Linked DNA regions of Homo sapiens. The protein of the gene in region 1 purifies or fractionates together with the protein of each later gene. This does not show direct contact. Each region holds a gene or a part of one and is shown on either strand. Other genes may lie near its edges. The genes, in order: PCDHA7 and KLRG2.

Evidence for each region.
Region 2: the proteins of PCDHA7 (region 1) and KLRG2 purify together in Homo sapiens (affinity purification with mass spectrometry; one large-scale study listed by BioGRID and IntAct). This does not show direct contact.

The regions. Positions count from the first base shown.
Region 1 is NC_000005.10:140,832,472-140,836,388, forward strand, and holds the start of PCDHA7 (protocadherin alpha-7 isoform 1 precursor), read left to right. Parts: upstream 1-1,797; 5' UTR 1,798-1,912; coding exon 1,913-3,917. UniProt on the Homo sapiens protein: Calcium-dependent cell-adhesion protein involved in cells self-recognition and non-self discrimination. Thereby, it is involved in the establishment and maintenance of specific neuronal connections in the brain.
Region 2 is NC_000007.14:139,452,650-139,456,466, reverse strand, and holds the end of KLRG2 (killer cell lectin-like receptor subfamily G member 2), read left to right. Parts: intron 1-2,252; coding exon 2,253-2,356; intron 2,357-2,759; coding exon 2,760-2,880; 3' UTR 2,881-3,777; downstream 3,778-3,817.

The DNA.
Region 1 (3,917 bases):
AACTAACTCTACATACTTAAGAGTGGCAGAATTGTCTCTGATTATACTGAAGATCACCATTTGTGTAGCTAATGATATCTAACAGCCTCAAAACAGCATACTTTCTTAGGAAGTAGAGAACTATAGCGTTGCTAGTGAGTAAATGTTTTTTAAAAAGTTCCTAGGAGGGTCTTTAAGAGTATCACACTGTGCCTGCTGAGAATCATCGAATTAACAAGACCTGGCTTCAAATTTAATAGATAAATAAAGGTAAGTATCCTACATAAATACGATGATAGTAAAAGCAAGAATATTGTAAGAGGTGCTAGAAAGGTACATCATAGTGTTATTGGAATTGGAAAAAAATCTTTGCCTTTTTCCCTTGTTGAAGGAGACCGTGAAGAGTCATGATGTTTTACTGGTTATAAAATGGAAAGAGTTTTCCCTGGGAGAATATGGAGACTAACAGGTATTCATGAGAAGAGAGTAACTTAAGTGAGTATACAGAAAATTCCAAATGTACCTAGAAATGAGGAATAGTCCACTTTGGGTAAAGCACATGGTTCCCATAAGAGAGAGTGTGATATAAAGCAAGAAAAGTAATATGAGAAAAACCTTTTGTATAACTTTGAGTACTAGACGAGTAATTTTGACACTCTTCAAAGTCATTTGAAAGCTGTCAAAAAGTGTGAAGCAATACGAATAAAAAGTATTAACGGAAGATGACTGCAAGGATTAAATGAAGGAGAATGAAATAGGAATGGACAGGTTACACAATAAGAAGCTACTGCAATACACCAGGAGAGCAGCAATTATAAAAACTTATTTAGGAAAGCATCTGAATACAGACATAATTATTTTACATGCCATTGGGAACATTGGAGTGAAACATTCCAGAAAACGAACACAGTAAGGTAGATCCAAAAAGGATGAAATACCTCAAGACTTGATCAAAGGGCTGCTGTATGTGAGATGGCTGAGCACTGAAATTTATCTAATAAAATAAACTTACATTTTAAAAGAAATAATACAAATCATATTTGAGATTGTAAAAATAGGCATATATTCATAACACACAAGTGTTCGAAAGGATAGAATGAGGAAACAAATATAAAATGATGAACTCCTGAAACAGTATATATAGATTCTGCTAAAGCAAAAAATTCAGAATACTTCCTCCTCAAAAAGTTCACATGATACAAATTCTTCCCCTTCAAAGATTCCCCAAACCTTCTCTTATTTTGTTTTCCCAAGAGAAGTGTCTGGATAGTTGCTAATGTTTCTTGCCTCCTAAAAAGAAAACACACACACACACACCGCTTTCTAAGTTTCTCTTTCATCAATCAGTAGATTCTTGAGATCCTGGGTCCCTAAAAGAGTACAGGATTTTTCTTAACAAGCGATACTGAATCAAGAATATGAAGTTTCCTGGGATCTAGATCAAAGGAATTTAAACTTGCAGTTGTTTAAATTCATGTTGTCACTTAGGTTTCTATCTTTATTTAAAACTGTGTGAAAAAAAAGTTTTTCTAAGGCATGAGGAAGCTACAGTTCTGGTAACACTGAGTATTCAAAAGCCATCAGTCGCCTAAGAATGCTTCTAACAATCATGAGAAATGCTATTTTAACCTTTAACAACAATGAAGAAAAAAATTCAGAGTTTGAAATAAAACTTTTCATCTGATTAATAGTTTGTAATGGTTTGTAATTCTTACTTACATGATGGCCACATGATGTCGCTCTTTACCGCAAATTCTTTCGTAATCAGCAAAAGGAAGTCATTCCTTTTCGCACTGGAAAGACGCTCCACTCTCTTTCACTCTTTGGATGCACAACAATGGCCACACATCGAGATTGAAATGAAGGGATAAAAACATTCCTATAAATTCGAAGGCAAGTTTTGCTGACTAGAAAAACAAGCCAATAATTTGAAATGGTGTGCCCGAATGGATACGACCCAGGGGGCCGACATCTACTGCTGTTTATTATAATTCTAGCAGCTTGGGAGGCAGGGAGAGGCCAGCTCCACTACTCGGTCCCCGAGGAGGCTAAACATGGCAACTTCGTGGGCCGCATCGCGCAGGACCTGGGGCTGGAGCTGGCGGAGCTGGTGCCGCGCCTGTTCCGGGCGGTGTGCAAATTCCGTGGGGATCTTCTGGAGGTAAATCTGCAGAATGGCATTTTGTTTGTGAATTCTCGGATCGACCGCGAGGAGCTGTGCGGGCGGAGCGCGGAGTGCAGCATCCACCTGGAGGTGATCGTGGAAAGGCCGCTGCAGGTTTTCCATGTGGACGTGGAGGTGAAGGACATTAACGACAACCCTCCGGTGTTCCCAGCGACACAAAGGAATCTGTTCATCGCGGAATCCAGGCCGCTTGACTCTCGGTTTCCACTAGAGGGCGCGTCCGATGCAGATATCGGGGAGAACGCCCTGCTCACTTACAGACTGAGCCCCAATGAGTATTTCTTCCTGGACGTGCCAACCAGCAACCAGCAGGTAAAACCTCTTGGACTTGTATTACGGAAACTTTTAGACAGAGAAGAAACTCCGGAGCTTCATTTATTGCTCACGGCCACCGATGGAGGCAAACCCGAGCTGACTGGCACCGTTCAATTACTCATCACGGTACTGGACAACAATGACAATGCCCCAGTGTTCGACAGAACCCTGTATACGGTGAAATTACCAGAAAACGTTTCTATCGGAACGCTGGTGATTCACCCCAATGCCTCAGATTTAGACGAAGGCTTGAATGGGGATATTATTTACTCCTTCTCCAGTGATGTTTCTCCAGATATAAAATCCAAGTTCCACATGGACCCCTTAAGTGGGGCAATCACAGTGATAGGACATATGGATTTTGAAGAAAGTAGAGCACACAAGATCCCAGTCGAGGCTGTCGATAAAGGCTTCCCACCCCTGGCTGGTCATTGTACAGTTCTTGTGGAAGTTGTGGATGTAAATGACAATGCTCCACAGTTGACTCTCACTTCCCTGTCTCTCCCTATTCCAGAGGACGCCCAACCAGGTACCGTCATCACATTGATTAGCGTGTTTGACCGAGATTTTGGAGTCAACGGACAGGTTACCTGCTCCCTGACGCCCCGCGTTCCCTTCAAGTTGGTGTCCACCTTCAAGAATTACTATTCATTGGTGCTGGACAGCGCTCTGGACCGCGAGAGTGTGTCCGCCTATGAGCTGGTGGTTACCGCGCGGGACGGGGGCTCGCCTTCTCTGTGGGCCACTGCTAGCGTGTCCGTGGAGGTGGCCGACGTGAACGACAACGCCCCGGCGTTCGCGCAGCCCGAGTATACGGTGTTCGTGAAGGAGAACAACCCGCCGGGCTGCCACATCTTCACTGTGTCGGCGGGGGACGCGGACGCGCAGAAGAACGCGCTGGTGTCCTACTCGCTGGTGGAGCTGCGGGTGGGCGAGCGCGCGCTGTCGAGCTACGTGTCAGTGCACGCGGAGAGCGGCAAGGTGTACGCGCTGCAGCCGTTGGACCACGAGGAGCTGGAGCTGTTGCAGTTCCAGGTGAGCGCGCGCGATGCGGGCGTGCCGCCTCTGGGCAGCAACGTGACGCTGCAGGTGTTCGTGCTGGACGAGAACGACAACGCGCCGGCACTGCTGGCGCCTCGGGTGGGTGGCACTGGTGGCGCAGTGAGAGAGCTTGTGCCGCGGTCTGTGGGCGCGGGCCATGTGGTGGCGAAGGTACGTGCAGTTGACGCTGACTCAGGCTACAACGCGTGGCTTTCGTATGAGTTGCAACCGGTGGCGGCCGGTGCGAGCATCCCGTTCCGCGTGGGGCTGTACACTGGTGAGATCAGCACGACACGAGCCCTAGATGAGACGGACGCACCGCGCCACCGCCTTCTGGTGCTTGTGAAGGACCACGGGGAGCCCTCGCTGACAGCCACAGCCACCGTGCTGGTGTCGC
Region 2 (3,817 bases), on another chromosome or scaffold:
TTGAACACGGGAGACGGTGGTTGCAGTAAGCCGAGATTGTGCCACTGCACTCCAGCCTAGGTGGCTGAGCAAGACTCCGTCTCAAAAATAAAAATTAAAAAAATAAAAATAAAAAAGAGACAGCTCTATTCTGTGAAAGTTGTGGAAACCAAGGGGAGGGAGGAGCACCTATTTCACCTTGGAGAGGGTCAGCCCAGTGTCCGTTAAAAAAGCCACCTTTAAATCAGTTCTGAAGGATGGAGGAGGTGGCAGCAACAGGACAATCATCACTCTAATTCCCAGGGCTTGTCTTTGTTGACTTAAACCATTTTCTTAGGGAAGAAGAACTGAGCATATGCGAAATTCATTTATACCGCTCTGCTCCTAACCTGCCTCAGTGTGAATATGTGCTTCTTGACATTGTTGTGAGTGATATGTACTTGCTAGTGTAGTCTTTTTTTTTTTACATGGCATGATTTCATATTTACATTTTCCTGCATAATGACATTTTCTATACACTTGTCATTTTTAATAGCACTATAATTTTCCATCATGTTGACATCCTATAATTTACCTTGTTATTTCTTGATTGCTGAGCGTTTGGGGAGTTTCCAGTTTTTCTTCACAAATAGCACCGTGTTATCTTTAGATAAGTTCATTTTTTTCCCTTTATATTCTTGGATTTATTTCTCAGTGAAATCACCCATTTGAGCAGGAGTGGTGGTGCTGCTCTTGTCACATAGCACCAAACGACATTTCAGAAAGAACAAGCTGATGCGGGCCGTGCCGGCATCACTGCCCCCTCCACCACGTCCCCACCCTGGGACTTAAAAGATTTAAACTTTTTTTTCCAAGTTAAAAAATCTTGGCCGGGCGCGGTGGCTCACGCCTGTAATCCCAGCACTTTGAGAGGCCGAGGCAGGCGGATCACGAGGTCAGGAGATCGAGACCATCTTGGCTAACACGGTGAAACCCCATCTCTACTAAAAATACAAAAAATTAGCCAGGCATGGTGGCGGGTGCCTGTAGTCCCAGCTACTCGGGAGGCTGAGGCAGGAGAATGGCGTGAACCCAGGAGACAGAGCTTGCAGTGAGCCGAGATCGCGCCACTGCACTCCAGCCTGGGCAACAGAGCGAGACTCTGTCTCAAAAAAAAAAAAAAAAAATCTTGGCCGGGTACAGTGGCTCACACCACTAATTCTACACTTTGGGAGGCTAAAATGGACAGATCACTTGAGGCCAGGAGCTCAAGACCAGCCTAGGCCAACACGGCAAAACCCTTCCCTACTAAAAATACGAAAATTACCTGGGTGTGGTGGTGCATGCCTGTAGTTCCAGCCTCTCAGGAGGCTGAGGCGGGAGAATCGGTTGAACCTGAGAGGCGGAGGCTGCAGTGAGCCAGGATCGTGCCACTGCACTCCAGCCTGGGTGACAGAGCAAGGCTCCATCTCAAAAAAAAAAAAATCTTAAATATATACTTTAAAACATTGTCTTTTTTGCTTTAATTCATTGTTAAAAATAGTGTGACATTGAGGGCAAATATTTAAAAGAAAAAAGTCTCCTCTAGTACCTCTCCAGCACACTTACTTTGGTTTTTGTTGTTCCTGCACATCTGCGTGTGTTATTATTATTATTATTATTATTATTATTATTATTATTATTATTATTTTGAGATAGAATTTCCCTCTTGTCAGCCCAGGCTGGAATGCAGTGGCGCAATCTCGGCTTACTGCAACCTCTGTCTCCTGGGCTCAAGCGATTCTCCTGTTTCAGCCTCCCAAGTAGCTGGGATTACAGGCGCCCGCCACCATGCCCAGCTAATTTTTTTTTTTTTAATAGAAACGGGGTTTCACTATGTTGGACAGGCCGGTCTCGAACTCCTGGCCTCAGGTAATCTGCCAGCCTCGGCCTCCCAATGTGCTGGGATTACAGGCATGAGCCACCGTGCCTGACCACCTCCCTCGCTTTCTGAGCTTCCTTGTTTCTTTGCCCACTCAATGCCCACTGAGCATCACTTAGTGGTGTTTGGCGTTCACATCCCTTTGGCTGAGACGGGGTCACCCTCATTTTGGCCCCCAGCCCTGAGCACAGAACCTGGCACCCAGCAGGCATCCAATCCAGCTTTCAAGGTTTTTTTGTTCTGCAAGTGCTGGCTTGAGCAGATCCTTCTGGATTGGCCAGCTGGGATCCTGTGGAAGCCCCAGGGAATCCGTACGCCCCAGGCAAGCCACGCCAGTGTCCAGGGGAGTGACCAGCTTACTTTTCTCCCTCAGGACTTCCTGGGCAGATACCCAGTCTCCAGGCACTCCTGGGTGGGGGCCTGGCGAGGCCCCCAGGGCTGGCACTGGATCGACGAGGCCCCACTCCCGCCCCAGCTGTGAGTGACCACGGGCTTTTCTCCCTCCTCTGCTGTTCTGGATCCTCCATTTCTCCCCAGACTCCACCTCCTTGCTGCTCCCCTAGCCTGGAATGCCACTTGGAAAGCAGCCCACGCCCATGCTCGCGGCCTGGTGCCTGATTAGACCCTGTCGCTTCACTCTTTATTTGGGTTCCCAGCACGTTCACCCAAGCAGGGTTGTCACCCCCATTTTACAGATGCGGGGTCAGCTGCCCAGGGAGGTTTGGGGATTCATCCAGTGCCACGTGGCTGACCAGTGCAGTGACTCACTCAGTGCCCAGGCCGGTAGAGGTGACAGGCACACACGCTGGAGGGTCTGGCTGGGAAGCAAGGCCCCGGCACCCTAAACACCTCTCCTCTTTCCCCTCCCATCCTTTCCCAGACTCCCTGAGGACGGCGAGGACAATCTGGATATCAACTGTGGGGCCCTGGAGGAAGGCACGCTGGTGGCTGCAAACTGCAGCACTCCAAGACCCTGGGTCTGTGCCAAGGGGACCCAGTGATCTGGGCTCTGCCTGGTCCTCAGCCTGCCAGGCAGATGCAGCACCCCCTACAGGGGAGGCCAGTTGAGAGCTTGGGCAGCCTCTTCCTGGACCCAGTTATCCAGGTCTTCATGCTCTGCTCAAGGGGGCCACATGAGCGAGCCTAGGAGCTGGACTTCAACCCAGGAAGATGCATCCGAGGGAAAGGAGATTTTCTATGGCCTCAGGCCTGAGTGCCAATATTAGTCTCCAGCTTCTGTGGATGATCGGTTTGATGACATTGGGATGGTTGTTTAGCATTTCTGTGCCTTGGTTTCATTAAAATGACAATTTCCCCCTAGAGGAAAAAGACAGGGTTAACAACCACAGCGGATTCCAATCTGGGTTCTCATTCCGGCTCATGGAAATGAGTCTGCCGTTGTTCAGTGGCAGTGGGACTTGGCAGGGATAACGTCATTGCTGTGAATTCTACTTCAGGCAGCTGGGTGTACATCGGACACAGCCTACCGGCAGCCTCTGGAAAATTAACCAAGGAAAAGGAGCGGTCAGCCCTGGAAAGAGGGGAGAGCAAGGTTTTCCTTCCCCACCCTGAGAGTTGGCAAAGGGTTGGCAGACAGGAAGGTTCTGGGTGGAGATCCCGCATGTGGGCTGGCCAGCCCCTGGCACGCTGATGCCCAAGGGTGAGACAAGGCAGAGAGGACAGGGCCACCTGGCAGGAGAAGCCAGGAGAGCACCCCAGCTTGGTAGGTGGAAGCTGAGGAGTCTGAGTGAAAAAGGAAATCAGAGAAATGCAGGCACGTTCCAGGCAGCTCTTCTACCCACAGCTGCAGAGACGACCAACCTGAAGATGTCTCCATGCTGGGGTGCAGTGAAGACCTTCAGGCTGGAGGATGTGGCTGACAGAGTTGTGTAGTTCCTTGAGTCCAGCTAGACCTCCAAACAGCAGGAGCCTGGGCCT